Linked DNA regions of Homo sapiens. The protein of the gene in region 2 interacts with the protein of the main gene of each other region in a biochemical or structural test. Each region holds a gene or a part of one and is shown on either strand. Other genes may lie near its edges.

The links.
Region 1: the proteins of ICAM3 (region 2) and ITGAD form a complex in vitro, tested with the Homo sapiens proteins (one study listed by BioGRID).

Annotation. Positions count from the first base shown.
Region 1 is NC_000016.10:31,411,550-31,427,819, forward strand, and holds the end of ITGAD (integrin alpha-D isoform 2 precursor), read left to right. Parts: intron 1-1,288; coding exon 1,289-1,419; intron 1,420-1,539; coding exon 1,540-1,697; intron 1,698-2,901; coding exon 2,902-3,056; coding exon of another isoform or gene 3,057-3,138; intron 3,139-3,310; coding exon 3,311-3,442; intron 3,443-4,548; coding exon of another isoform or gene 4,549-4,602; exon of another isoform or gene 4,603-4,634; intron 4,635-4,663; coding exon 4,664-4,737; intron 4,738-4,955; coding exon 4,956-5,097; intron 5,098-6,525; coding exon 6,526-6,642; intron 6,643-6,751; coding exon 6,752-6,831; intron 6,832-6,931; coding exon 6,932-7,015; coding exon of another isoform or gene 7,016-7,066; intron 7,067-11,564; coding exon 11,565-11,643; intron 11,644-11,802; coding exon 11,803-11,910; intron 11,911-12,021; coding exon 12,022-12,099; intron 12,100-12,295; coding exon 12,296-12,409; intron 12,410-12,552; coding exon 12,553-12,654; intron 12,655-12,917; coding exon 12,918-13,028; intron 13,029-13,861; exon of another isoform or gene 13,862-14,019; intron 14,020-14,465; coding exon 14,466-14,579; 3' UTR 14,580-14,956; and 1 more. Other genes in the region: COX6A2 (cytochrome c oxidase subunit 6A2, mitochondrial precursor), read right to left, coding at 16,225-16,270.
Region 2 is NC_000019.10:10,336,101-10,349,350, forward strand, and holds the start of ICAM3 (intercellular adhesion molecule 3 isoform 1 precursor), read right to left. Parts: upstream 3,525-13,250; 5' UTR 3,515-3,524; coding exon 3,439-3,514; intron 3,146-3,438; exon of another isoform or gene 2,849-3,145; coding exon 2,582-2,848; intron 1-2,581. UniProt on the Homo sapiens protein: ICAM proteins are ligands for the leukocyte adhesion protein LFA-1 (integrin alpha-L/beta-2). ICAM3 is also a ligand for integrin alpha-D/beta-2. In association with integrin alpha-L/beta-2, contributes to apoptotic neutrophil phagocytosis by macrophages.

The DNA.
Region 1 (16,270 bases), on a different chromosome or scaffold from region 2:
GCTCCTTCCCATGTCCTGAGTTCACTGAACGCAGCCTCCTGTCTCTGTCACCATTCCCTTCCTTGTTGCAGTGGTTTGTCAGCTAAGCACACGTCATCTCTCTTCTCTCCTTTGTTCCAGAAAGCCTTCCATCTGTGTGGGCAGCTTAATGGTTAGGAGAGCAGACTTTGAGGTCAGAGGCCAGTTCAAATCCCTGGCCGGGCCGGCCATCCTGAGCTGTGTGGCCTTAGGCAGGTGACTGACAGCCTTGGTCAGCCTTAGTTTCTTTCTATAAAACGCAGAAATGATAAAACCAACTCCTTAGGCCTCTTGTAGAAATAACAGTGAGAGTGCTAAGGCAATCACCACTGCACTCACTGAAGGTTCATGAGTGACCTGACCAGTGATGAATACACAAATATATTATACGCCTATTGTTACGCTCTTACTTCCTCACCAACCTGCACCCTCATGACGGGTTGGACCCAAAGAGCCCCCTTCTCTGTTTGGGGGTCCCGAGGTCCTCACCCTGTTTGCTTTTTTTTTTTCTTTTTTTTTTGAGACAGAGTCTCACTCTGTCGCCCAGGCTGGAGTGCAGTGGCGTAATCTTGGCTCACTGCAACCTCCCGAGTAGCCTCCCGAGTAGCTGAGATTATAGGCTTCTGCCACCATACCCGGCTAATTTTTGTATTTTTAGTAGAGATGGGGTTTCACCATGTTGGCCAGGCTGGTCTCGAACTCCTGACCTCAGGTGATCTGCTTGTCTCAGCCTCCCAAAGTGCTCGGATTACAAGCGTGAGCCACTCCGCCTGGCTGTATTTGCTTTCAATTTCTATCTCCACATCTCTCCTTTCCAATTTCTGTCTTCTGATCCTCTTTCACCACAATCTGTTTTCCAAATCTCTCCTCTCAAACCTTTCCCATCACCTCCCTTTGACTTCCGCCACTCCCATCTCTCTGGCCAGCGGGTTGCTGGAAAGATGAGCAAACGGAGGGACAGACAGATTGAGTCCTTGCCCACGGCCTCGTGGCTCATACGTGGAGGAGTCAGAATTGGAACTAGAGATTGATTGAATGAATGACACTCGGGTCACCAGGACACCCTTCCAATCTCCACTCCTACATCTATTTCTTAGCAATCATCTCCCGACTCCTACCTCCTCTTTTCAGGCTCTTGTTGGTGACATCTGTTCACAGCTCACCCCTTCTCTCCCTTTGCCACCATCCTACCTCCATATTCCCCTTGTTACTTATTTCCAACTTCTTCCCCCATCTTCCAGCCTGATTCACCCTTTTCTCTTCTGGCCAGCGGATTGCCAGCTCCCAGCTCTCCCCCAGGCTGCAGTATTTTGGGCAGGCGCTGAGTGGGGGTCAGGACCTCACCCAGGATGGACTGATGGACCTGGCCGTGGGGGCCCGGGGCCAGGTGCTCCTGCTCAGGTAGCGACTCCCCAACATCCTGCCCTCCCGCGCTGTGTCTGATTCACCGGTGCTGCCTCCCCAGCCACGTTATCCTCCCAGAAGCCAGTGTTCTGTCCTCCCCACTACTCTGCCCCTCAGGAGTCTGCCGGTGCTGAAAGTGGGGGTGGCCATGAGATTCAGCCCTGTGGAGGTGGCCAAGGCTGTGTACCGGTGCTGGGAAGAGAAGCCCAGTGCCCTGGAAGCTGGGGACGCCACCGTCTGTCTCACCATCCAGAAAAGCTCACTGGACCAGCTAGGTGTGTTTCCCCCATAAAGGGGGCCCAGGCCCCTCATTCCATTAGGGGCCCCAATGCCATCCTGAGGATGGGATGGGCCTAGGAATCCAATCTTACCTCCACATTCACTCACCACCTGTGCCAGAAACCTGGCTCATTCTCTCCCCTCTTCCTCACACCTGGGCCTGTGGATTCTGTCTCCAGGGCTGACCTGAAGTCCACCCAGTTCTCTCCTGGGCCCCAGCCACTGCCTTCCCCCAGCCCCTGATTCCCTTCCACCTACACCAAAGTCATGACATGAAGCAGTTCCCACATCTCTTCTTGCACCCTCCCACCCATTTTCCACAGAGGAACTAGAGTCGACTGGTCCTAAAATGCAAATCTGGGCTCCTCACTCCCCTGCGTAACCCGCCTTGCATTTACAAAGACTCCAGTCCTTCCCTCCAGTGCCCTCTCTGACTTGGCCTCCTGGCCTCTCTGACCTCATAGCATCCCACTCCTCCTTACTAGGCACGCTTTTCGTAAATGCACCAGCTTTGCTCTCCCTTCTGGTCTTAGGCCCTGTTCCCATGGTCCCGGATGTTCTCCCCACTCCTCACCTGGCTCCTGCTCATTCTCCAGGTGGCTGCTTAGCCATGGTCCATCCGGGATGGCAGCCTGGCCAGGTCCAGCAAGCATGCTCTCCTTAGAACCACAGGAGAGCCTCCCCTCGCACTGATCACGCTGCAACATCACGTCCCATGTGCTTGGCTTCTTTCTTAGATTGTGAGGTTCATGAGAGTGGGGGCCATATCTATCTAGCTAGCTAATCTATCATCTATCTGCCAAATCTGTCATCTATCTATTATCTATTAATCTAATCACCTATCTAATCTATCATCTATCTACCAATCTATCACCTATTATCTATCATCTATCACCTATCTAATCTATCCTCTACCAAATCTATCATCTATTATCTATCATCTGTCTATCTAATCTGTCACCTATTTAATCTATCATCTATTTATCTATTATCTAGCCATCCATCCATCCATCCATCCATCCATCCATCCATCCATCATCTATCCGTCCATCTATCTTCTTCACATGTATCCCCAGCACGTGGTACAGTTCATGGCCCATAGCAGTGTCCAGCAAACATGTATTGCATGAACAAATAATGAAAACAGAGCATTCTAGGTTATTTCTGCCTTTTCATTTTGCACTCTCCCCTGCACTTCAGGTGACATCCAAAGCTCTGTCAGGTTTGATCTGGCACTGGACCCAGGTCGTCTGACTTCTCGTGCCATTTTCAATGAAACCAAGAACCCCACTTTGACTCGAAGAAAAACCCTGGGACTGGGGATTCACTGTGAAACCCTGAAGCTGCTTTTGCCAGTGAGGACTTTGGGTTCTGGGAAGGGGGAGAGAGGAGGAGCCCAAGGCTGGCCTGGAGCACCCCCGTTCTCTGCTGAGCGAGGTGGGAAGGGTTAGGATGTTGGGGCTGGAGAGAGGGACATTAGGGCAGGAGAACCTGGCTCCACGGCTTGGAGGGAGCACTGTCAGGGCAGTGGGGAGTGGATGCAGTGGAGGAGGACTTGTGGTGGAGCGTAGAGAGGACAGCAGGTTCTTGAAAGCCTGTTCTCTCTCAGGATTGTGTGGAGGATGTGGTGAGCCCCATCATTCTGCACCTCAACTTCTCACTGGTGAGAGAGCCCATCCCCTCCCCCCAGAACCTGCGTCCTGTGCTGGCCGTGGGCTCACAAGACCTCTTCACTGCTTCTGTGAGTCTTCTGATGAAGTCCCAGGGATGTGCTGACTTCATTTTGTCTCCATGAGCTTAAGAATCCACTGTAGCTCCCCAACACCCAACCACATCCAGTCCAGAAACCTGACTCCAGTCTCTCCCTTCCTCCTCACACCCAGGCCTGTGGGTTCTGTCTCCAGGACTGACATGAAGTCCACCCATTTCTCCTCCTGGTCCCAGCTGCTGCCTTCCCCCAGCCCCTCGATTCTCTCCCACCTACACCAGAGTTGACACGAAATGGTTCCCATATCTATTGTTGTATCCTCCCACCCATTTTCCATAGAGGAGCTAGAGTCGACTGGTCCTAAAATGCAAATCTAGGCTCTTCACTCCCCTGCGTAATCCCCCTTGCATTTACAAAGATCCCAGTCCTTCCCTCTGATGTCCTCTCTGACTTGGCCTCCTGGCCTCTCTGGCTTCACGGCATCCCACTCGCCCTTACTAGGCACGCTTTTCATAAATGCGCCAGCCTCGCTCTCCCTTCTGGTCTTAGGCCCTTCTCCCACCTCCATCCACACACCCAGGAACTGTACACATCCTAGGCAGTTCCCACTTTTCCCTAGCACAGACTCTCTTGTTCATTCCCAGATCCCTCCCAAGTTTCCTCATTCCTACCTCTGTGCCTTTGTCCCTGTTTCGCCCCTCACTTGGAAAACAGTGCCTTCTGCCTTCTCTCCCCGTTTTCCCCCGAAGCTCCAGCCTTACCTCCCTCTCTTCTGAAGGCCACACTCAGCATCTGCCGCTCCTTCTCTGGTCCCTGTTACACCAAGGTGGTGCCACAGCAGATATCACATGGCTGTTATAACCATCTGCATCTACATTTGAGGCTGTCTTGGGACTGTAGTTTCTTTGAGCATAGGAACCATGTCGAATTTGCCTGTCATTTCCACCTTCCCCCAGCCCTCGCCCAACCCAGAACCTGCACAATTATTGGCACTTAATAATGTTTGTGGAATAATTGTTCCAGGATAAGCTGGATGTAACTCAACTGAACTTTATGTCCCTTGAAGCCAAGGATCTTGTCTTATCTTTCTTTTATATGCCAACCTCCAAACCGCACCTGCGCCCCTTGTTGGTGTCCAGCAAAGTGCTGGGGGCAGTGGCTTAGTAATGCTCAATGTTGGAGAGTGCTTCTAAGGAGGGGCTTGGAGAAAGACTAAGATGTCAGATGGGAACAGAATATACTATTTTGCTGCAGCTCCCCTTCGAGAAGAACTGTGGGCAAGATGGCCTCTGTGAAGGGGACCTGGGTGTCACCCTCAGCTTCTCAGGGTGAGCTGTAACTCCCTTCATATCCAGACACTCAGGCTTCTGAGTCCCCCATCCTCCTGGGATGCTTGTGCTGCTCTCTGGCTCTTTCTAACAAAAGTGATGTTCACTGGATTGTTATTGGCCCAGAGCTCCAGAGTTCCTGGGATTCTGCCCTGCCCTTCCCAGTTCCCACCTATTTCCAGTGGAGCGCCACTCCCAGCCTCGTCCTTCCCCTTCAGCCTGCAGACCCTGACCGTGGGGAGCTCCCTGGAGCTCAACGTGATTGTGACTGTGTGGAACGCAGGTGAGGATTCCTACGGAACCGTGGTCAGCCTCTACTATCCAGCAGGGCTGTCGCACCGACGGGTGTCAGGAGCCCAGGTAACAACTGCTGTAGGCTCTAGTGGGAGGGGGCCTCTCCCCTGCCCTGTAGCCCCGGGAGTTACACAGTGTTCTTCAAAATTGTTCTGTGATGATATGTGCTCTCTCTCTCTCTCTCACACACACACACATACACACAGAGAAAGTGCATAAAGCATACATACGGTTTAATGAATAATATTAAACAAACCATAGAGTTAACATCCAGATCAAGAAATAAATCACTGCTAGCATCCCCAGAACCCCCTCCCTGTTTACCTTTCCCCATCACAGCTCCATCCTGTCCCCAAAGGTCATCACTATTCTGACTTTGTGGTCATTTCCTTGTATCTCTCTCTCTCTCTCCTTCCCCCCTCCCTCCCCCCTCCCTCCCTCCCTTACTTCCTCCCTCCCTCCCTCCCTCCCTCTTTTTTTTGAGACTGAGTCTTACTCTGTCACCCAGGCTGGAGTGCAGTGGCACAATCACCACTCACTGCAGCCTAGACCTCTTGGGCTCAAGCAATCCTCCCACGTCAGCCTCCCAAGTAGCTGGGACTACAGGTGCATGCCACTACGCCCAGCTAATATTTATTTATTTATTTATTTATTTATTTATTTATTTATTTATTTTTTAGAGACAGGGTCTCACCATGCTGCCCAGGCTGGTCTCAAACTCCTGGGCTCAAGTAATCCTCCCACCTCAGCCCTTAAAGTGCTGAGATTACAGGTGTGAACCACCACACCTGACCATATTGTTTCTGTGTGTGGGTCTTATTTAAGAAACACTTCCAGGTTATGAAAATAGCCCCCTATATTATATTCCAAAAGCTTCATGGTTTTGCTTTTTCACATTTAAGTATTTAATCCAGTTGGAATTTATTTTAATTTATGGAGTGAGGTAGGGATCCAATTTCTTTTTCTTCTTTCTCCTCCTCTTCCTCTTGTACTTTCTTTACTTTTCTTCTGCTTTTTAAAAAATTTTTTGTATGGGTCAATTTTCCTGGCATTGATGGAAATTGATTGAAAAGTCTGTCCTTGGCCGGGTGCAGTGGCTCACACCTGTAATCCCAGCACTTTGGGAGGCCAAGGCGGGTGGATCACCTGAGGTCAGGAGTTTGAGACTGGCCTGGCCAACATGGTGAAACCCCATTTCTACTGAAAATACAAAAATATTAGCCAGGCATGGTGGCAGGCACCTGTAATCCCAGCTACTCAAGAGCCTGTGGCAGGGGAATTGCTTGAACCCAGGAGGTGGAGGTTGCAGTGAACCACGATCATGCCATTGCACTCCAGCCTGGGTGACAAGAGTGAAATCCGTCTCAAAAAAAAACAACAACAAAAAAAGAAAAGTCTGTCATTTTCCCTAGTGCTCTGCAGTGCCACCACTGCTGTGTATCAAGCCCACACATGCATGCGGGTAACTTCTTAAAATTCATTCTCCTCCCCTAGAAGCAGCCCCATCAGAGTGCCCTGCGCCTGGCATGTGAGACAGTGCCCACTGAGGATGAGGGCCTAAGAAGCAGCCGCTGCAGTGTCAACCACCCCATCTTCCATGAGGGCTCTAACGTCAGTGCTTCTCCCTAAATCCCCATCACTGTCCTCCCTTGTCCCAATCTGTCCCTCACTCTGCCATGCCCTTCCTTTTATCCCCATTCTTTCCTTCTTCTTCCCTCAGGGCACCTTCATAGTCACATTCGATGTCTCCTACAAGGCCACCCTGGGAGACAGGATGCTTATGAGGGCCAGTGCAAGCAGGTGGGTCCAGGCCAGGGTATCCCCCACCCTCCATCGCATGCCCCGGCTAGAGACCCCTCTCCTGGATTCCTTCCCATTGGTCCCTCCTTTCTGTCTCCAGTGAGAACAATAAGGCTTCAAGCAGCAAGGCCACCTTCCAGCTGGAGCTCCCGGTGAAGTATGCAGTCTACACCATGATCAGCAGGTGCCCAGTCCCTGGCCTTCCCCTTGGACCTCTGGCCTTCCTCTATGCCTGGTACTCCTTCTGAGTCCCAGCCTGCTCTTCCAATGATGCACATCTAAGCTCTCCTGTTTTGGGATGCCTTTGTGGGTGAATGGCCATATATAATGACATTTATGCTGCATAAAGATGTTTCTGGGCTGGGCGCGGTACCTCGCGCCTGTAACCCCAGCACTTTGGGAGGCTGAGGCAGGTGGTTCACCTGAGGTCAGGAGTTCGAGACCAGCTTGGCCAACATGGTGAAACCCCATCTCTACTAAAAATACAAAATAAATTAGCTGGGCGTGGTCATGCGTGCCTGTAATCCCAGCTACTTGGGAGGCTGACGCAGGAGAATCACTTGAATCCGGGAGGCGGAGGTTGCAGTGAGCCGAGATCATGCCACTGCACTCCAGCCTGGGTGACAGAGGGAGACTCTGTCTCAAAAAAAAAAAAAAAAAAAATTAGCTGGGCCTGGTGGCGCATGCCTGTAATCCCAGCTACTCAGGAGGCTAAGGCAGGAGAATCTCTTGAACCTGGGAGGCGGAGGTTGCAGTGAGCTGAGATTGTGCCACTGCACTCCAGCCTGGGCAATAGAGCAAGATTCTGTCTCAAACAAAAAAAAAAAAAAAAGGTGTTTTTGTCAACAGTGGACCCACATTTACTACGGGTGGTCTCCTAAAATTATAACGGAGTTGAAAAATCTCCTAATGATGTCATAGCAGTTGTAACATTGTAGTGCAACTCATTGCCTTTTTTATGTCTAGATACACAAATACTTTCCATTGTGTTACAATTGCCTACAATATCCAGTACAGTAACACGCTGCATGGGTTTGTAGCCCAGGAGCAATAGGCTATACCATATCACCTAGCTGTGCAGTAGGCTCTACCATCTAGGTTTGCATAAGTGCAACCTATGATGTTTGCACAATGATGAAATTGCCTAAGGCCGGGCGCAGTGGCTCACACCTGTAATCCCAGCACTTTGGGAGGCTGAGGCAGGCGGATCACCTGAGGTCAGGAGTTCAAGACCAGCCTGGCCAACATGGCGAAACCTTGTCTTTACTAAAAACGCAAACATTAGCCAGGCGCAGTGGCACACGCCTGTAATCCCAGCTACTGGGGAGGTTAAGGCAAGAGAATCGCTTGAACTTGGGAGGCGGAGATTGCGGTGAGCTGAGATCGCGCTGCTGCATGCCAGCTCAGGGGTGACAGATTAAGGCTCTGTCTCAAAAAAAAAAAAAAAAAAAGAAAAAAAAAGAAAAGAAAAAGAAATTGCCTAACGATTAATTTCTTGGAATGTATCCTTGGTGTATTTGTACCCTAATAATATATACCATAGCTCTTGCTGCTTCTCTCAAATCGACTTGCTGGTGGGACACACACACATTGCCACCACTGTGCCTTTCCCCCTCTCCCTCTAAAAGGAAGGCTTCCTTTTTTAACATGAAACAAATTCTGTCCTTTGTATTAAATGTGAATGTGCTGAAGCAAAGCTGCTACATGGAGATCAAGGCTTTTCTGAGCACCCTGAATTGGGGAGCTTGTGCCCAACAGGATATGGTCTGTCACCACACAGAGGAAAGGAAAGGTCAGGTTTCTATAAAACTCAGAGTGGGGCAGAGGTGTGAGAAACTGTTGGGAAGGTCTCTTAAGAGCCTGGCCAAGGCAGCGCAGGAAAGGCAAGTGTAGGGCTGAAGGCAAGAGGGTTCTGCAGGTGGTGGAGGCACAGGGGCAGGCGAGGCTGGATGCAGAGCAAGGCATCCCATACACTGGGCTGAAAGACTGTAACACTGCTGTGGGACAAAGTTTGCTGCTATTGCTTTTTTTTTTTTAGACGGAATCTCACTCTTTCACCCAGGCTGGAGTTCAGTGGTGCAATCTGGGCTCACTGCAACCTCCACCTCCCAGGTTCAAGTGATTCTCCTGCCTCAGCCTCCCGAGTAGTTGGATTACAGGCATGCACAACCACATCTAGCTAATTTTTTGTTTGTTTGTTTGTTTGTTTTTGAGATGGAGTTTCACTCTTGTTGCCCAGGCTGGAGTGCAATGTTGCGATCTCAGCTCACTGAAATCTCCGCCTCCCAGGTTCAAGTGATTCTCCTGCCTCAGCCTCTCGAGTAGCTGGGACTACAGGCATGTGCCACCATGCCTGGCTAGTTTTGTATTTTTAGTAGAGACAGGGTTTCACCATGTTGGTTAGGCTGGTCTTGAACTCGTGACCTCAGGTGATCCACCCCCACCCGAGGGCCTCCCAAAGTGCTGGGATTACAGGCATGAGCCACCACACCTGTCCACTGTTGCTTCTGATGTATTAAGTTGTTAGGGGAAGGAGCGAGGGAGATCAAGCAGTGTCATTGTCCTTTCAAGCCACATGTAGGTTTCCCTTTCTATCCACAGGAAAATACTTACAATAAGAGCTTACAGTTATATATACCCATGTCAGGCACGTTTTATGTTGCTGTTGTTTTATGGTGGTTTTCTTACACCATCTTAAGTACTTTATATGTATTTACATTTATTTAATCCTACCAATAATTATATTGTTATCCCTATTTTCACCAACAAAGACATCAAGAAGTGAAATACTTTGTTCCTGTCAATCTCCAAGTGGGCAGCAGAACCAGGAATCAGACCCAGACGGTTTGGCTGCAGAGCCCATGCCCATGGCCATACATGGCATGCCTCTCCAAGGACTGGGGAAAGCTGGGTGGTTTACTTAGATCTGAAAACAGGCTTAGGCTGCGCACGGTGGCTCGTGCCTGTAATCCCAGCACTTTGGGAGGCCAAGTGCTGGGATTACAGGCATGAGTGGGAGGATGGCTTGAGCCCAGGAGTTTAAGACCAGCCTGGGCAACATAGTGAGAACCCATCTCTACCAAAAAAAAAAAATTAAAAATGAAAATAAAATAAAACTTTAAAAATGAAAAGAGGTTTAGAACTAGATTTTAAGATGAGAAAACAGAAGCATAGAGAGAAGGGTTTGGGGTGGGGGGCACAGAGGAAAACCGGCATACTTAGGGAAAAATAAACCTTAAGATTTATGGAGGAGTCCCTGTGTGCTGGGCACTACCAAGCCCTGGTCACAACTCTACTACAGGGAGGTTGCTACGGTTTGCATCCCCATTTTAAAGAGTGAAAAGCTACAGTTTCCAGAGACGTGAAGTGGCTTGCCTCAGTGACTCAGGTAGGAAGTGGTCGACCTGAGATGTGAACCTAGGCGGTTTGACACTGGAGCCCATGTTTTTAGTCATCAGGCTGATGGGGGGTGGACTGCTGGGGCTGTTTCTGTGTGGCTGGTCTGGCTGCTGCATGCGAGGTGCAGGCCCCTCTGCTGGTCTGCTTACTTTTGCTTTTTGTTTGTTTTGAGACAGGGTCTCACTCTGTCACCCAGGCTGGAGGGGAGTGGTGTGAACATAGCTTACTGCAGCCTCGACCTCCCAGGCTCAAGCAATCCTCCTGCCTCAGCCTCCTGAGTAGCTGGGACCACAGGCGTGTGCCACCACTTGCAGCTAATGTTTGTATTTTTTTTTTTTTTTGCAGAGACGAGGTCTCTCTGTGTTGCCCAGGCCAGTCTTGAACTCCTGGGCTCAAGCGATTCTTCTGCCTTAGTCTCTCTAAGTGTTGGGATTACAGGCGTGAGCCACCTCGCCTGGCCAGCTTGCTCATTTTTACTAAAACTTTAGATGTTAAGTGGTGAGAGGGCAGGGAGTTATGGCTTAACTTGAATCCCCAGTGCCAACCACACAGCCTGTGTTTGCTGAAGGAAGTTTGGGTGGAAAGACCCCACCTGCTGCCTGGAACACTGATGTCCCTTCCACAGGCTTGTGCACAGGCACTATCTTCCTTCACATTTACTCACCTGCCCCAGGACAGCCGAATCTATTTTCTTCATTCCCACCATGAAGGGGCCCTCACTCCATGTCTTCCTGAGTGATCCAGCTCTCATTCCTAGAGTCCCCTTAGGCTAACTTGTTCTGCTACAATCTCTGTAAGCATTACCAGAGGCCAAACACTACCTATTAGAGAAAGCAATGCAAACGCCTTTGCCCCATGTAGGAGACATGAGGTTTAAGTTGGGTCTTTAAGTGTAAATTTCCAAAACTGGAGACAGTAAGAACGTTCCAAGGAGAAGAGCTTGAGCAAAGTCATGAGGCTATGAAAGAGCCAGCGGTGTGCATGGCAGAGCTAGTGGATCTGGGTGATGGGGGCAAGGGACATCGGAGGGAGGGGAGCTGAAGCCGAGGCAGCAAAGGTTATGTGGGACCATCTTTTACTTATTTACTTTGAATAGGGACAGGGTCTCACGATGTTGCCCCAGCTGGTCTGGAACTCCTGGGTTCAAGAAACCCTCCTGCCCCAGCCTCCCAAAGTGCTGGGATTACAGGCATGAGCCACTGTGCCCGGCCAAATAATGTCCATCGTTATTTCCCTGAGACATCTGCCCAGCCCAACAGAGCTCTCTGCAGTAGGACAGGGCACAACTGGGGACAGTTTCAGGGCTGTTTTTCACCCACAGGCTCTCTCTCCAGGCAGGAAGAATCCACCAAGTACTTCAACTTTGCAACCTCCGATGAGAAGAAAATGAAAGAGGCTGAGCATCGATACCGTGTGAGAGTCTAGGGAGTATCCATGTCTGCCTTCCACGTTGTGGATAAAGTTGGAAGTTGGTGGAGAAGATGGAGAGGAGCCTTGGGGTAGGGCCAGGAGGGAAGTAGGATTTGGAAGGCTCCAGAGACCACAATAACACTCTGCCTTGATTTCCTGCAGGTGAATAACCTCAGCCAGCGAGATCTGGCCATCAGCATTAACTTCTGGGTTCCTGTCCTGCTGAACGGGGTGGCTGTGTGGGATGTGGTCATGGAGGCCCCATCTCAGGTACCCGCCTATCTCTCCTCTTTCTTCAGACTGACATCCCACAGCACAGCACTCCCTCTTACCAGGGACATGTTGCTCATTCTGTGGCTAAGTGCTTCTTTCTCTTCCCAGAGTCTCCCCTGTGTTTCAGAGAGAAAACCTCCCCAGCATTCTGACTTCCTGACCCAGATTTCAAGAAGTCCCATGCTGGTGAGAAAGTCCCTGAACCCCCACCGCCAAGATCAGCCCCCACCGGGGATACTGGGAAATGTACTGCTAGGCCACAGAGTTCCGTGCATGTCCTGTAACTGCTCATCTGTTCCCCACCCCAAACCTGACCATATTTTTTCCTATGGCTCCCTCCTCAGGGAAGAACCCCTCAGTTTCACCCCTCTTCTGCCCCCAGGACTGCTCCATTGCTGACTGCCTGCAGTTCCGCTGTGACGTCCCCTCCTTCAGCGTCCAGGAGGAGCTGGATTTCACCCTGAAGGGCAATCTCAGTTTCGGCTGGGTCCGCGAGGTGTGTGGGGGCAGCGGCAGAGCCCCTGCCCCAGACTCAGGCAGGACCTGGCATGTCTGTGCCCATCTGCAAGCCAGGGCACCCCCGAAGCTCTGAGCCTCCCCCAGAGCCAGTTCCACAGGTTTCCCCCAACCCCTTTGCAGACATTGCAGAAGAAGGTGTTGGTCGTGAGTGTGGCTGAAATTACGTTCGACACATCCGTGTACTCCCAGCTTCCAGGACAGGAGGCATTTATGAGAGCTCAGGTAGAGACCATGTGGAGGGCAGCGACCAGCTGGAAAGAGGACCCCTAGGGCTACATCTGTGGTGCTGGGTGGGGGGTTTGCAAGCCTTGCGGGAGGAGGGTGAAAGTCTCTGGGCAGGACAGCTGTCCCTAAGGGCACGGGTGCTACTGTGTCTCACTCCTTGGAGCAGAGCCTCAGAAAGGAGGGGAGAGAGTTAAAGGTTGCGGAACCTGGGAGGCATCTGGGATGGCATGAGGCCGGATGCTCTCTGATCTCTAAATCAGATGGAGATGGTGCTAGAAGAAGACGAGGTCTACAATGCCATTCCCATCATCATGGGCAGCTCTGTGGGGGCTCTGCTACTGCTGGCGCTCATCACAGCCACACTGTACAAGGCAAGTGTTTTATCCAACTCTTTTTTTTTTTTTTTTGAGATGGAGTTTCCACTCTTACTGCCCAGGCTGGAGTGCAATGGCATGATCTTGGCTCACTGCAACCTCCACCTCCCGGGTTCAAGTGATTCTCCTGTCTCAGCCTCCCGAGTAGCTGGGATTACAGGTGGACTGCACCATGCCCGGCTAGTTTTTTGTATTTTTAGTAGAGATGGAGTTTCATCATGTTGGCCAGGCTGGTCTCGAACTCCTGACTTCAGGTGATCCGCCCACCTTGGCCTCCCAAAGTTCTGGGATTACAGGTGTGAGCCACCTCATCCGGCCTTATCCCATTCTTGACACCACCAGCATCCAACCCAAGCCCTCCTACAGACTGGCTGATATAGTGAGAACTCAGACTGTGGAGGCAGACAGGCCTGGACACACATTTTGGCTCTATCATGTACTCACTGTTTAATGTTAGGCAAGTTGCTCCACCTCTCTAAGCCTGTTTCTCTCTTTCTTTTTTTTCTTTTGAGATGGAGTCTCACTCAGTTGCCTAGGCTGGGGTGCAGTGGCACAATCTCAGCTCACTGCAACCTCCACCTCCTAGGTTCAAAAGATTCTCATGCCTCAGCTTCCCAAGTAGCTAGGACTACAGGCACACACCACCACACCTGGCTATTTTTTGTATTTTTAGTAGAGAGAGGTTTCACCATGTTGGTCAGATTGGTCTCAAACTCCTGACCTCATGTGATCCGCCCACCTCGGCCTCCCAAACTGCTGGGTTTACAGGCATGAGCCACTGTGCCCGGCCGTTTCTCATTTTTGAAATGATAATAATGCTTATATCACAGAGTGGCTGAAGTGAGAGAGAAATGAGGCCAGGGCATGTGCACAGATCTGCCTGGATCTATGCTGTCCTGCCACGGGTCGTGTGTGTACCTACTGTGCTCGGGGCCAGCAGATGCTCGATATATGATAGCTGTTCACATAAATGTTCTCGCACACAAACGTAAGTTAGCTTAGTTGTTGCCTCCTCTTCTCTCTCAGCTTCCTCTTATTCCCAATTTTCTTCCCTGCCCTCTTACCCAGCTTTTCTTTCTTTTCTTTCTCTTTTCTTTTTCTTCTTCTTCTTTTTTTTTTTTACATGGAGTCTTGCTGTCTTGCCCAGGCTGGAGTGCAGTGGCATGATCTTGGCTCACGGCAACCTCTGCCTCCCGGGTTCAAGCGATTCTCTTGCCTCAGCCTCCTGAGTAGCTGGGATTACAGGCGCACCACCACACCCAGCTAATTTTTGTATTTTTAGTAGAGACGGGGTTTCACCATGTTGGCCAGGCTGGTCTCCAGCTCCTGACCTCAGGTGATCCACCCTCCTCAGCTTCCCACAGTGCTGAGATTACAGGTGTGAGCCACCGGGCCCGGACTTACCCAGCTTTTCTAATTTATTTCCCCTGATAGCTTGGCTTCTTCAAACGCCACTACAAGGAAATGCTGGAGGACAAGCCTGAAGACACTGCCACATTCAGTGGGGACGATTTCAGCTGTGTGGCCCCAAATGTGCCTTTGTCCTAATAATCCACTTTCCTGTTTATCTCTACCACTGTGGGCTGGACTTGCTTGCAACCATAAATCAACTTACATGGAAACAACTTCTGCATAGATCTGCACTGGCCTAAGCAACCTACCAGGTGCTAAGCACCTTCTCGGAGAGATAGAGATTGTAATGTTTTTACATATCTGTCCATCTTTTTCAGCAATGACCCACTTTTTACAGAAGCAGGCATGGTGCCAGCATAAATTTTCATATGCTTAAGAATTGTCACATGAAATGAGGATGTTTATAGCACACTTTCCTTGCGTGGAAGAGCTATAACCCAGGGACCTGAGTGCCTCTCTGGGAATAGTCGGGGGAACCTATTTGTGGGCATTGAAAAAGTTTTTTCACTTTCTATGGTGATGGGAGCCTGAGGTCATCTTTTCTTGATGGGGCTGAGAGGTGTGTATCAGGGGAGAGGGTCAAAGAGTGTGTGTGTGTGTGTGTGTGTGTGTGTGTGTGCATGTGCATGCACGTGCACGCAGGCATGCATTGGTCATGGGTTTCTTCACACACTTCAGGTTCCTCTGTAATGGTAAGTGGGCAGGCTGTCCTAGGAGGTGAAGAAATGTCCAGAGCTCATTTGAACTCCTGTCCCCCTTGAATGAGGTACTCAGAAGCCAGGAGAGCCAGGCTAGGAGCATGTGATTTCCCATATAGAAGACTCATTAAGAAAGATTATAGGCCGGGCGCGGTGGCTCACGCCTGTAATCCCAGCACTTTGGGAGGCCGAGGCGGGTGGATCATGAGGTCAGGAGATCGAGACCATCCTGGCTAACAAGGTGAAACCCCGTCTCTACTAAAAATACAAAAAATTAGCCGGGCGCGGTGGCGGGCGCCTGTAGTCCCAGCTACTCAGGAGGCTGAGGCAGGAGAATGGCGTGAACCCGGGAAGCGGAGCTTGCAGTGAGCCGAGATTGCACCACTGCAGTCCGCAGTCCGGCCTGGGCGACAGAGCGAGACTCCGTCTCAAAAAAAAAAAAAAAAAAAGAAAGAAAGATTATAGAGAATTATCAAAAGATTCCAAATCCAGCATTAGGTCCCAAGGCCTCACACACAGGACTGTGGAGCCTCCGTCTGAAATCCAGAGAGCTGGGATTCACAGACACCAGCAGCTCAGGTGTCAGGCAAGAAGTGGGACTTCAGGATCTGCAGCCCTGGGCTCCCATGGGGGCTCTGCCGAGCTGCCGGAACTTGGACAAGTCATTTAATTCCCAAGAATCTCAGGTCTTCCTCGGGAGAAGGTGAACTAAATTTATACCCTGCTCCCAGCGTTACTGTGAGGATTCGGTGTACGCGGAAGCCCATTACAGCCTAGAGCCCTAATTATTAATAGGTGTGTGTGAGAGGGAGGCCTCATTATTACCAGGTGAGAGACAGGGAGCTGGGATCGCCTACCTGTGAGTGGAGGAGGCTCCCTCGAGCACCTCCGTATCAGCGGCGTGGGAAAAGCACGTGGAGCGCCCACCGCGCTAGGCGCATGCGCGGAGCAGGAGCGCTTACCAAGCTGGGCGCATGCGCGGAGCGGGCGCCTCTGGGCGCGCTCCCCGTGGCCCCGCCCTCCCCACAGAGCCGCAGACTCGAAGCTTCACACCTTTATTGTGTCCGGGGGCGTCCGGGGCCTCAGGGGTGTTCGTAGCCCGTGGGCAGAGGGTTCACGTGGCTATTG
Region 2 (13,250 bases):
GGCTTAGAGCTGGGCCAGTCGAAGCGTTTGCTATTATCATTAGCGCAGTGATTATCATTTCCTGTGTTGTCAGATACCTTGCAAGGCGCTAAACAAAACTTTCTGTTCTCAAAGATGGCACAATAAAAAAAAATGAGGATGGAAGGGATGAACGTTTATGACTATGATATGAATATTAAAAATTCCTGTTTATGGCCAGACGTGGTGGCTCACGCCTGTAATCCCAGAGCTTTGGGAGGCCGGGGTGGGTGGATCAAAAGGTCAGGATTATTCAGTTCTCTCCAATCAGGTTCAGACACTCAGGGCTTTCCTGGTTCACCAGCCCTGTGGCAGCCTCTCAAGATACTCCGGCACAGTCACAGGAGACTTGACACTCCCAGGCTGGGTGCCCTCCCCAGTACACCTACAAAACGCTGGGCCTCAGGCCGGGCACTGTGGCTCATGCCTGTAATCCCAGCACTTTGGGAGGCCAAGGTGGACGGATCACCTGAGACCAGGAGTTCAAGACCAGCCTTGCCAACATGGTGAAACCCCATCTCTACTAAAAATACAAAAATTAGCCAGGCATGGTAGCACGTGCCTGTAATCCCAGCTACTCAGGAGGCTGAGGCACAAGAATCGCTTGAACCCAGGAGGCAAAATTTGCAGTGAGCTGAGATAGTGCCACTGCACTCCAGCCTGGCGACAGAGAGAGACTCTATGTCAAAAAAAAAAAAAAAAAAAAAAAGGCTGGGCAAGGTGACTCATGCCTGTAATCCCACCACTTTGGGAGGCCGAGGGAGGCGGATCACTTGAGGTCAGGAGTTTGAGACCAACCTGGCCCATATGGCAAAACCCTGTCTCTACTAAAAATACAAAAATTAGCCGGGCATGGTGTCACACGCCTGTAATCCCAGCTACTAAGGAGGCTAAGACAGGAGAATCACTTGAACCCAGGAGGCGGAGGTTGCAATGAGCTGACATCGCGCCATTGTACTCCAGCATGGGGGACAATAGCAAGACTGCGTCTCAAAGAAAAGAAAAGTCAAAAAGTAGGCCAGGCATGGTGGCTCACGCTTATAATCCCAGCACTTTGGGAGGCCAAGGCGGGCAGATCATTTGAGGCCAGGAGTTTGAGACCAGCCTGGGCAACATGGTGAAATCCTGTCCCTACTAAAAATACAAAAATTAGCTGGGCGTGTTGGCATGCGCCTGTAATCCCAGCTACTCAGGAGGCTGAGGCAGGAGAATCGCTTGAACCCGGAAGGCAGAGGTTGCAGTGAGCCAAGATTGCGCCACTGCACTCTAGCCTGGGGGACAGAGTGAGACTCTGTCTCAAAAAAAAAAAAAAAGAAAAGAAAAGAAAAAAAAAAGTAGCCAGGCCTGCAATCCCAGCTACTGGAGAGACTGAAGTGGGAGGATTGCCTGAGCCCAGGAGTTTGAGACCAACCTAGGCAACATAGGGAGATCCTGTCTCTAAAATAAAGGTATAAAAAAGTGTAAATGTAAAACCTCCATTTGCCTACTGCTGACTGAAAGGGGTACCCCCTTTTTTGCTTAAGAGACAAGGGTCTTGCTTTTTTGCACAGGCTGGAGTGCAGTGGTGCAATTATAGCTCACTACAGCCTTGAACTCCTGGGCTCAAGCGATTCTCCCACCTTGGTCCCCCAAGTAGCTGGGACTTCAGGCATGTGCCACCATGCCCAGCTAATATTTTTTATTTATTTTTGTAGAGACGGGGTGTCCCTATATTGCTCTGCCTGGTCTTAAATTTCCGGACTCAAGCAATCCTCCTGCCTTGGCCTCCCAAAGTGTTGGGATTATTGTTGGGGCCAGGCGCAGTGGCTCACACTTGTAATCCCAGCACTTTGAGAGGCTGATGTGGGCGGAACACCCCGTCTCTACTAAAAATACAAAACTTAGCTGGGCATTAGCTGGACCTGGGAGGCAGAGGTCGCAGTGAGCCGAGATTGCACCACTGCACTCCAGCCTGGGCTACAGAGTAAGAGACGCCATCTCAAAAAAAAAAAAAAGCTTGTTGGGGCCGGGCGCAGTGGCCCATGCCTGTAATCCCAGCACTTTGGGAGGCTGAGGTGGGCGGATCGCCTGAGGTCAGGAGTTCAAGACCAGACTGGCCAACATGGTGAAATGCCATCTCAACTAAAAATACAAAATTTGCTGGGTGTGGTGGCGTGCATGTGTAATCTCAGCCACTCGGGAGGCTGAGGCAGGAGAATCACTTGAACCCAGGAGGCGAAGGTTGCAGTGAGCCGACATCGTGCCACTGCACTCCAGCCTAGGCAAAAAGAGCGAAACTCTGTCTCAAAAAAAAAAAAAAAATGCTTGTTGGGGCCCAAGTTAATTGATTTCACAACTGCTGCCTTGGCATGAGATTGAGATGCGTCTCTATATCTCTGTCTCTGTCTCTGTGTCTCTGTCTCTGTCTATCTTTGTATCTCACACACAAATGTCCAGGTCTGAGCTCTGGGTCAGAACTGTGGTCCATTCTTTGCAAACTGAGGGTCCCCACTCTCCTGAGCCATTGGCCACTTGCCCACACCACTACCCAAGACCAGTCCCACCTCCGGACACGTCGACTCACTGTACACGGTGATGTTAGAGGAGCCTGTTATCTGAGAGCCATTGCAGTACACTGAGCAGAGGATCCGACTGTTGCCAGTCACGTTGCTGAGATTGAAGGCTGCCCAGCCCATGCCACTGGCCACCAGCTCCTTTGATAGGGACGTCTCCAAGGCGATTTTCTCAGAGCTGGGACAATCAGTACTGCAGTTCACAAACAGGGACCCTCCAGCAGAGAGCACAGGGTTCTGGGGCTCCACCCGCAAAAGGAACTCCTGCCCCTGGACACCTTCAGGAACATGAAGAAGTCCTGGTGTTTGTTTCCTTGTCCCCCAACCCACGCATCAACAGGCCCCACCATTTAACACCTCTCTCCTTGTGCCGAGACAGAAGGGTTCCTGCCTTCATGGTCCAGTGGGAAAGGTAGAATCCATCAGAGACCGGGGAGAACTCAGAAGGAGGCCAGAAGAGGCTCTGATCCAGCATAGGAGGAGGTGAGTCAGGGAAGGCTTCCTGGAAGCGGGGACCATTGCAGCCCGAAACTGAAGGCTAAGTAGGAGTTAGCAAGTGAAAGGGACAGGTGATCCTGGCAGAGGGAAGCACATACGCAAAGGGCAAATTTCAGGAGTTCAGATGGAGCAGGAAGCATGAGGGGTGTGTGTGTGTGTGTTAGGGGAGAGGGATGGCGTACAAGCCTATGCTGGGGCCTGACCACCTGAAGGCTGAACTAAGGAACCAGAACTTTCTCCCGAGGATACAGAGTCAGCGGCCAGGTCGCAGTGTGGCAGGATGTGAACAGCGTTGCGTTCTATTCCTCTACCCTCTACTGATCCCCAAAACGCAGCCCTCTCCAGCCCTCCCCGGCTTGACTGGTCTCACCTGGGGTCAGCAGACAGCAGACCAGCAGAGTCCAGCAGGCCCTGGGCCACAACACGGATGGTACCATGGTGGCCATTCTGACAGAGGAAGGTGCCTTCCTGAGGTGCCCGAAGGGCAGGCAGGGGAAAAGGCGGGGCCTCCCACTGCGACGGAAGCACAGCGGTTAAGATTGCAGAAGTCTGGGGACTGCACCTTGCCCAGGCCTGTGGGTGGAAGGGGATGCTGTGGCCCTTGGGGGCCAGGGTGGGGGACCCAGACGGGGCTCTGCAAAGTGGCCAGCACTGCTGAGTCTCCCCCAGGGAATGGGCTGGTCCCAGTTGCACTGCTGGCCCCCATTTGAATTCACAGGAAATGCTAACTAAACTGGTTTCTTTTGTTCTCAGCACTGGGAAGCCTGGGTGGGGGGGATGAGGCATCTCCTTCTGGCTGAACTTAGGTGGGTAGGGGAATATTCTGTCCCCAGAGAGGAAGTTAATGGGGAAAACTGTAGGCACCATTGTGTAGATGTTAAGGTGGGATTTCGAGGAAACATTAAAAAACAAAAACAAAAACAGAAACAGAAGCAGAGTCTTGCTATGTTGCCCCGACTGGTCTTGAACTCCTGGCCTTAAGATGGCCTCCTCTCATCTTGACCTCCCAAAGTGTTGCGATTACAGGCGTGAGCCACCACGCCTGGCCACCTTTGAAGATCTTGAGGATACCTCCCTATCTTTGAAGATCTTGGGGATCCCCCATCCCCTGCACAAAGAGCTAAGGTAGGTGATTTGGGGACAGCTGAGTCCCTGAGCCACTGTCTATCCAGGATTCTACTTGGTTTTTGTTTGTTTGTTTTGAGACAGAGTCTCACTCTGTCACCCAGGTTGGAGTGCAGTGGCGGGATCTCGGCTCACTGCAGCCTCTGCCTCCCGGGTTCAAACGATTTTCCTGCCTCAGCCTCCCGAGTAGCTGGGATTACAGGCATGTGCCACCACGCCCGGCTAATTTTTGTACTTTTTGGTAGAGACGGGGTTTCACCATGTTGGCCAAGCTGGTCTCAAACTTCTGACCTCAAGTGAGCTGCCCGCCTTGGCCTCCCAAAGTGTTGGGATTACAGGCGTGAGCCACTGCGCCCGGCCTTCCAGGATTCTACTTGTAACTGGCCTTTACCCCATCCTGTTGTCCCCTTGCCCACCCTTCCAGGCAGCTGGTCACTGCATTCCAAGGGAAGGCGCCAAGGGGACCAGGTGGGACCCCCACCTTTGACCTGCCTCTGACCTCAGGCCTCTGACCTGCCTTCTGGGCTTCACATCTGAGCTCCAGAGAGAGAGGCCTTGTTGAGAGCCTTGATGGGGCCCTGCACTCACCCACTTTCCCCAGACCTTGAGGTCACAGCACCTCCTCTCTCATCTAGAGCACCCCCACCTTCCTAAGCAGGTCCCTCCTCTATTCCTCTACCTTCCGAACAATCCATTTCCCACCTGGTGTTGAGAGAGCAGCTAAAACCCAAGTCTAGTGTATTTGTAAACAGCAGGGACCAGTAGCATGGGCCTGGTGCCTGTAGTCCCAGCTCCTTGGAAGGCTGAGGTGAGAGGATCGCTTGAGCCTGGGAGGTCAAAGCTGCAGTGAGTCGAGATTGTGCCCCTGCACTCCAGCCTGGGAGACACAGTGAGACCCTGTTTCCACAAAAAAAAAAAAAAAAAAAAAAGATGTCGGACTTACTGGCTCACGTCTGTAATCCTAGCAGCACTTTGGGAGGCTGAGGTAGGTGGATGACGAGGTCAGGAAATCGAGACCATCCTGGCTAACACAGTGAAACCCCATCTCCACCAAAAATATAAAAAATTAGCTGGGCATTGTGGCGGGCACCTGTAGTCCCAGTTACTCAGGAGGCTGAGGCAGGAGAATCACTTGAACCCAAGAGGCGGAGGTTGCAGTGAGTGGAGATTGTGCCGCTGCACTCCAGCCTGGGTGACAGAGCAAGACTCTGTCTCAGAAAAACAAACAAACAAACAAACATATATATATAATTTATAATACTTACGTAATAGTGAGACCCTGTCTCTAAAAATAAAAAAGAAAGAAATATTTGTAAATAAGTCATATTTCTTTTTTGTTTTTTGAAACAGAGTCTCACCGTGTCGCCTAGGCTGGAGTGCAGGGGCACAATCTCAGCTAACTGCAATCTCAGCCTCCTGGGTTCAAGTGATCCTCCCACCTCAGCCTCCCTAGGAGCTGAGACCACAGGTACACACCACTGTGCCTGGCTAATTTTCTGTAGAGACGGCTTTCACCATATTGCCCAGGTTGGTCTTGAACTCCTAAGCTTAAGGGATCTGCCTGCCTCGACCTCCCAAAGTGCTGGGATTATAGGCGTGCCCTGCTACACCCGCCAGTAATATTTCTGATAAAGAAGTATTTCTGGGCCAGGTGTGGTAGCTCACGCCTGTAATCCTAGCACTTTGGGAGGCTGAGGCGGGCAGATCACGAGGTAAGGAGATCGAGACCATCCTGGTTAACACGGTGAAACCCCATCTCTACTAAAAATACAAAAAAAAATTAGCCCCGTCTCTACTAAAAATACAAAAAAAAATGGTGGCAGGTGCCTGTAGTCCCAGCTACTCGGGAGGCTGAGGCAGGAGAATGGCGTGAACCCAGAAGGCGGAGCTTGCAGTGAGCCGAGATCGCGCCACTGCACTCCATCCAGGCTGGGCAACAGAGTGAGACTCCATCTCAAAAAAAAAAAAAAAGAGTATTTCTGGGCCAGGCGTGGTGGCTCACACCTGTAATCTTAACACTTTGGGAGGCCTAGACAGGCGGATCCCTTGAGGTCGGGAGTTCCAGACCAGCCTGGGCAGCATGCCAAAACCCTGTCTCTACTAAAAATACAAAAAATCGGCCAGGTGCAGTGGCTCACGCCTGTAATCCCAGCACTTTGGGAGGCCGAGGCGGGCGGATCACGAGGTCAGGAGATCGAGACCATCCTGGCTAACACGGTGAAACCCCGTCTCTACTAAAAAAAATACAAAAATTAGCTGGGCATGGTGGCGGGCGCCTGTAGTACCAGCTACTTGGGAGGCTGAGGCAGGAGAATAGTGTGAACCCGGGAGGCAGAGCTTGCAGTGAGCTGAGATTGCGCCACTGCACTCCAGCCTGGGCGACAGAGCGAGACTCCATCTCGAAAAAAAAAAAAAAAGTACAAAAAAATCAGCCAAGCTTGATGGCACACACCTGTAGTCCCAGCTACTCAGGAGGCTGCAGCGGGAGGATTGCTTGAGCCCGGGAAGTGGAGGTTGCAGTTAGCTGAGATTGTGCCCCTGCACTCCAGCCTGGGCGACAGAGAAAGGTCACCTACACATGTTTAAGGGGCCTCTGCACATATCTCAAGCCATTGACAAGAAAGCAAGTACAGTCTGGATTGCAAACAATGTATAATTTAAGCTCCAGCTGATTTTTTTTTTTTTTTTGAGACAGGGTCTCAGTCTGTCACCCAGGCTGGAGTGCAGTGGCATAGTCTGGGCTCACTGCAACCTCTGCCTCCCAGGTTCAAGTGATTCTCCCGCCTCAACTTCCCAAGTAGCTGGGATTACAGGCATGCACCACCACACCCAGCTAATTTTTTGCATTTTTAGTAGAGACGGGGTTTCACCATGTTGACCAGGCTAGTCTCAAACTCCTGACCTCAGGTGATCCGCCCGCCTCGGCCTCCCAAAGTGCTAGGATTACAGGCGTGAGCCACCGCGCCTGGCCTCCAGCTGATTTTTGACAGCCACATTGTTGCTATAGGATCCTTTTTACGTGTGATGGTGATGGTCTCTGGTTCTCCTCATTCCCACAAAGGTTGTTGAACCACAGCACCAGTAACACTGAGAATGCTAAGGGCTCTAGCCCAGGCTTTCTCCCAGGTTCTCTGGTGTGCGCCCTCCTGGTGACAATGAAATTGAAGCTAATTGCTTTCACTGGTTGAGTCTCTGATCTTGAGTGGCTGTGTCCACATTTCATTTTTTTTTTTTCTGGTAGGAATAACTACTTTTCTGCATCCATGCTCCATAGACTCTGTCCTTTTCAGACATCCTGGGATAAAAAGATTTGGCTTTTTTTTTTTTCTTCTTCTTCCTGAGACAGGGTCTGGCTCTGTCTCCCAGGCTGGAATGCAGTGACATAATCATGGCTCACTGCAACCTTGACCTCCCAGGCTCAGGTGATCCTCCCACCTCAGCCTCCCTAGTAGCTGGGACTATAGGTGTGTGCCACTACACTCGGCTAATTTTTGTATTTTTTCTACAGAGGAGCTTTTGACATATTGCCCAGGCTGTTCTCGAACCCCTGGGCTCAAGTGATCCTCCCAACTCAACCTCCCAAAGTGCTGGGATTATTACAGGGGTGAGCCACTGTGCTGGGCTTTCACTCTTAGGCTATTAAACAATGAAGGTAGTTATTGATCCTATCTCTTTCATATTCTTCTTCTTTTTTTTTTTTTGAGAATGAGTCTTGCTCTGTCTCCCAGGCTGGGCTCACTGCAATCTCCACCTCCCAGGTTCAAGCGATTCTCCTGCCTCAGCCTCCTGAGTAGCTGGGATCACAGGCGTGCGCCACCACACCCAGCTAATTTTTGTATTTTTATTAGAGACGGGGGTTTCACCATGTTGGTCAGGCTGGCATATTCTTCTTTCTAAGAACTGAGAGTGAGGGGGCTGTATTGAATCTCTTCATGCACCAGGAACTGAGTTCTGAAGATGATCTTATTATTATCAGTATTTTTTGAGATGGGTTCTCACTCTGTTGCCCAGGCTGGAGTGAGGTGGTTCAGTCTTGGCTCACTGCAACCTCTGCCTTCCAGGTCCAAGCGATTCTCCTGCCTCAGCCTCCCAAGTAGCTGGGATTACAGGCGTCTGCCACCAGGCTTGAGCTACCACGCCCAGCCAAAAGAGCATATATTATGTATAGAAATAATAAGACGAGCCAGGTGCGGTGGCTCATGCCTATAATCCCAGGACTTTGGGAGGCTGAAGCGGATGGATCACCTGAGGTCAGGAGTTCGAGACCAGCCTGACTAACATGAGGAAACCCAGTCTCTACTAAAAATACAAAAAATTAGCCAGACATGGTGGCTCGTGCCTGTAATCCCAGCTACTCAGGAGGCTGAGGCCGGAGAATCACTTGAACCTTGGAGGAGTTTGCAGTGAGCCGAGGTCACACCATTGCACTCCAGCTTGGGCAACAAGAGAGAAACAACGTCTCAAAAACAAACAAACAAACAAACAAAACCCAAGAAATAATAAGACCATTTGGAATTACTGGACTAATAGAATAGTTAAGGTTTCTTATAGAGGCAATAAAATGTATTTTGAAAGAGCTGCTAACTATTGATGCTGACAGTATTTCATTCCTGTGAGTGACTCAAGCATATTATAAATAGCTAGTAAAAGCCTGGCCAACATGGCAACTAAAAATACAAAAAATTCACCGGACGTGGTGGCGCATGCCTGTACTTACAGCTACTTGGAAGACTGAGGCCCAAGAACCGACTGAGCCCTGGAGGCCGAGGTTGCAGTGAGCCGAGATCATGCCACTGCACTCCAGCCAGGATGACAGAGGAGAGAGACTCCGTCGCAAAAATAAAAATAAATAAATAAATAAATACCTCGTAAAGGGAACGGAGCCTGTGGGGTTGAGCAAAATGTACTAGCTGTGCCTGCAGTGAGTATAACAGCTTTACGATTATGAGGAAACAATTTTTTCTTTTCTTTTTTTTTTTTTGAGATTAAGTCTTGCTCTGTCGCCCAGGCTGGAGTGCGGTGGCACGATCTCGGCTCACTACAACCTCCACCTCCCAGGTTCAAGTGATTCTCCTGCCTCAGCCACCCAAGTAGCTGAGATAACAGGCGCCCGCCACCACACCCAGCTAATTTTTGTATTTTTAGTAGAGACAGGGGTTTCACCATGTTGGCCAGGCTGGTCTTTAACTCCTGACCTCAGGTGATTCACCCACCTTGGCCTCCCAAAGAGTTGGGATTACAGGCATGAGCTACTGCGCCCGGCCCCAGCCAAAATTTTTAATAGCAATGCAGAAAAAGAAGAAAACATGACAGGCGCAGTGGCTCATGACTGTAATTCCAGCACTTTGGGAGGCTGAGGCGAGCAGATCACCTGAGGTTAGGAGTTCGAGACCAGCCTGGCCAACATGGCGAAACCCCATCTCTACTAAAAATACAAAAATTAGCCAGGCGTACTGGCCCCACGCCTGTAATCCCAGCTACTCAGGAGGCTGAGGCAGGAGAATCACTTGGACCCAGGAGGCAGAGGTTGCAGTGAGCCGACATCGTGCCACTGCACTCCAGCCTGGGCGACAGAGCAAGGCTCCATCTCAAAAAAAAAAGTCAACAAGACAAACAACCTAGTTTCATCCACAAATATGTTGCAAGGGGGCAAAAGACAGAAAGAGGAACCCACAGACCAAAAGAGACGTAAGAAAACTGGCCTCGAGCAAATGCAATTGGGGACTTTGTTTGTATTTTTATTTATTTTTATTTTTTATTTTATTTTATTTTTTGAGATGGAGTTTCACTCTTGTTGCCCAGACTGGAGTGCAATGGCACAATCTCAGCTCACTGCAACCTCCGCCTCCTGGGTTTAAGTGATTCTCCTGCCTCAGCCTCCTGAGTAGCTGGGATTACAGGCACACGCCACCGCATCCGGCTAATTTTTGTATTTTTAGTAGAGATGGGGTTTTGCCATGTTGGCCATGTTGGTCTTGAACTCCTGACCTCAGGTGATCCGCCTGCCTTGGCCTCCCAAAGTGCTGGGATTACAGGCGTGAGTCACTGTGCCCGGCCCTGTATTTTTATTTATTTTATTTTTTCAGAACTAAAAGAGACTTACAGAAAACTGGCCTCAACCAAACGCAATTGGGGACCTTGTTTGTATTTTTATTTTTTTATTCAGAACTAAAAATAAATGATCTATTGGGCGGGTGTGGTGGCTCATACCTGAAAGCCCAGCACTTTGGGAGGCTGAGGTAGAGGGATCATTTAAGCCCGGGACTTCATCAACCTGGGTAACATGGAGAAACTTCGCCTCTACAAAAAATACAGAAATTAGCTTAAGCGTGGGAGGCGGAGGTTGTAGTGAGCAGAGATTGCGCCACTGCACTCCAGCCTGGATGACAGAGCAAGACTCTGTTTCAAAACTATGGGGACAGTAAATAACAGATCAGCAGTTGCCAGGGGTTAGTGAGAAGAGAGGGATGAACAGGCAGCGCATGAATGACGTTTAGCGCAGTGAAACTACTCCATGTGATACTATATTGGTGGGTTCATGCCTTATACGTTTGTCCAGCCCCACAGAACGTACAACAGCAAGAGTGAACCCTCATGTAAAGTACAGACCTCAGGAGAAAATGATATGTCAGTGGAGGTTCATAGATTTTTTTTTTCAGACAGAGTCTTGCTCTGCCGCTCAGGCTGGAGTGCAGTGGCATGATCTTGGCTCACTGCAACCTCCACCACCACCTCCTGGGTTCAAGCAATTCTCTTGCCTCAGCCTCCTAAGTAGCTGGGAGTACAGGTGCCTGCCACCATGCCTGGCTAGTTTTTGTATTTTTAGTAGAGATGGGGTTTCACCATGTTGCCCAGGCTGGTCTCGAACTCCTGACCTCCCAAAGTGCTGGAATTACAGGCATGAGTCACCGAGGTTCATAGATTCTAACACATGTATCACTGTGGTACAGGATAGGTCAGCAAGGGAGGTTGTGCAGGGGGATGGGAGGGAGGGGATATAGGAGAACTCTGTATTTTCCACTCAACTTTGCTGTAAACCTAAAACTGCTCTAAACAAATTGAGTGGTTATCCTACTACTCAAGAGGCTAAGGTGGGAGGATCACTTGAGCCCAGGAGTTTGAGACCAGGCTGGGCAGCAGAGTAAGACGCTGTGTCTACAAAAAATTTTAAAATTAGCCAGATGGCCAGGCATGGTGGCTCACACCTGTAATCCCAGCACTTTCGGAGGCTGAGGTGGGTGGATCACCTGAGGTCAGGAGTTCGAGACCAGCCTGGCCAACATGGTGAAATCCTGTCTCAACTAAAAATACAAAAATCAGCCAGGCGTGGTGGCGGGCGCCTGTAATCCCAGCTACTGGGGAGGCTGAAGCAGGAGAATCGCTTGAACCCTGGAGGTGGAGGTCGCACTGAGCCTAGACCGTACCATTGCACTCCAGCCTGGGTGACATAGTGAGACTCCCTCTCAAAAAAAAAAAAAAAAAAAAAAAAAAATTAGCCAGGTGACGTGGCAGGAGCCTATAGTCCCAGCTCCTACAGAGGCTGAGGTGGGAGGATCACTTGCGCCTGGGAGGTCAAGGTTGCCATGGGCTATAATAGCACCACTGTACTCCAGTGTGGGTGACAGAGCGAGACCCAGTCCCCAGCCCCACAAAAGAAGTCCTTCTGGGGATATTTAACTGCCTTTCACAAATGTGTCTGACCCACCATCTCAAGTCACACAGGCTAAGTAGAAACGCTTTGCCAAACACCAGAATAACAATAATACCTTTTTCTTTTCTTTTTTCAGACAGTCTTGCTCTATCGCCCAGGCTGGAGTGCAGTGGTGCGATCTCAGCTCAATGCACTCTGCCTTCCAGTTCAAGCAATTCTCCTGCCTCAGCCTCTAGAGTAGCTGAGATTACAGGTGTGTGCCACCACACCTGGCTAATTTTTGTATTTTTTTCCTCAACAAGAACAAACTTGGTAAATAACGATGATTGTTCATGGTTTCAGACTCCTTTTTTTTTTTTTTTTTTTTAAGTTCCAGGGTACATGTGCACAATGTGGTTTGTTACATAGGTATACATGTGCCATGTTGGTTTGCTGCACCCATTAACTCATCATCTACATTAGGTATTTCTCCTAATGCTATCCCTCCCGCAGGCCCCTACCCCACAACAGACCCCGGTGTGGGTGTGTGTTGTTCCCTGCCATGTGTCCAAGTGTTCTCATTGTTCAGTTCCCACCTATGAATGAGAACATGCGGTGTTTGGTTTTCTGTCCTTGTGATAGTTTGCTGAGAATGATGGTTTCCAGCTTCATTCGTGTCCCTGCAAAAGATATGAACTCATCCTATTTTATAGCTGCATAGTATTCCATGGTGTATATGTGCCACATTTTCTTAATCCAGTCTATCATTGATGGACATTTGGGTTGGTTCCAAGTCTTTGCTATTGTGAATAGTGCCGCAATAAACATACGTGTGCATGTGTCTTTTTTTATTTTTTTTTGAGACAGAGTTTTGCTCTTGTCACCCAGGCTGGAGTGCAATGGCTTGATCTTGGCTCATGGCAACCTCTGCCTCCTGGGTTCAAGTGATTCTCCTGCCTCAGCCTCCCAAGTAGCTGGGATTACAGACGCCTACCACAATGCCCAGCTAATTTTTGTATTTTTAGTAGACAAGGGTTTTGCCATGTTGGGCAGGCTGGTCTCAAACTCCTGACCTCAACTGATCCGCCCGCCTTGGCCTTTCAAAGTGCTGTGCTGGGATTACAGGCGTGAGCCACTCTATCCAGCCAACTTCATTTTTAAAATTTTTATTTTAAAATAATATAGGCTAGGTGTAGTGGCTCACGCCTGTAATCCCAACACTTTGGGAGGCCGAGGCGGGCAGATCACCTGAGGTCAGGAGTTTGAGAGCAGCCTGACCAACAAGATGTAACCCCGTCTCTACTAAAAATACAAAATTAGCCGAGTGTGGTGGCGTGCGCCTGTAATCCCAGCTACTCCGGAGGCTGAGGCAGGATAATCGCTTGAACTCAGGAGGGGGAGGTTGCAGTGAGCCGAGATAGCACCAT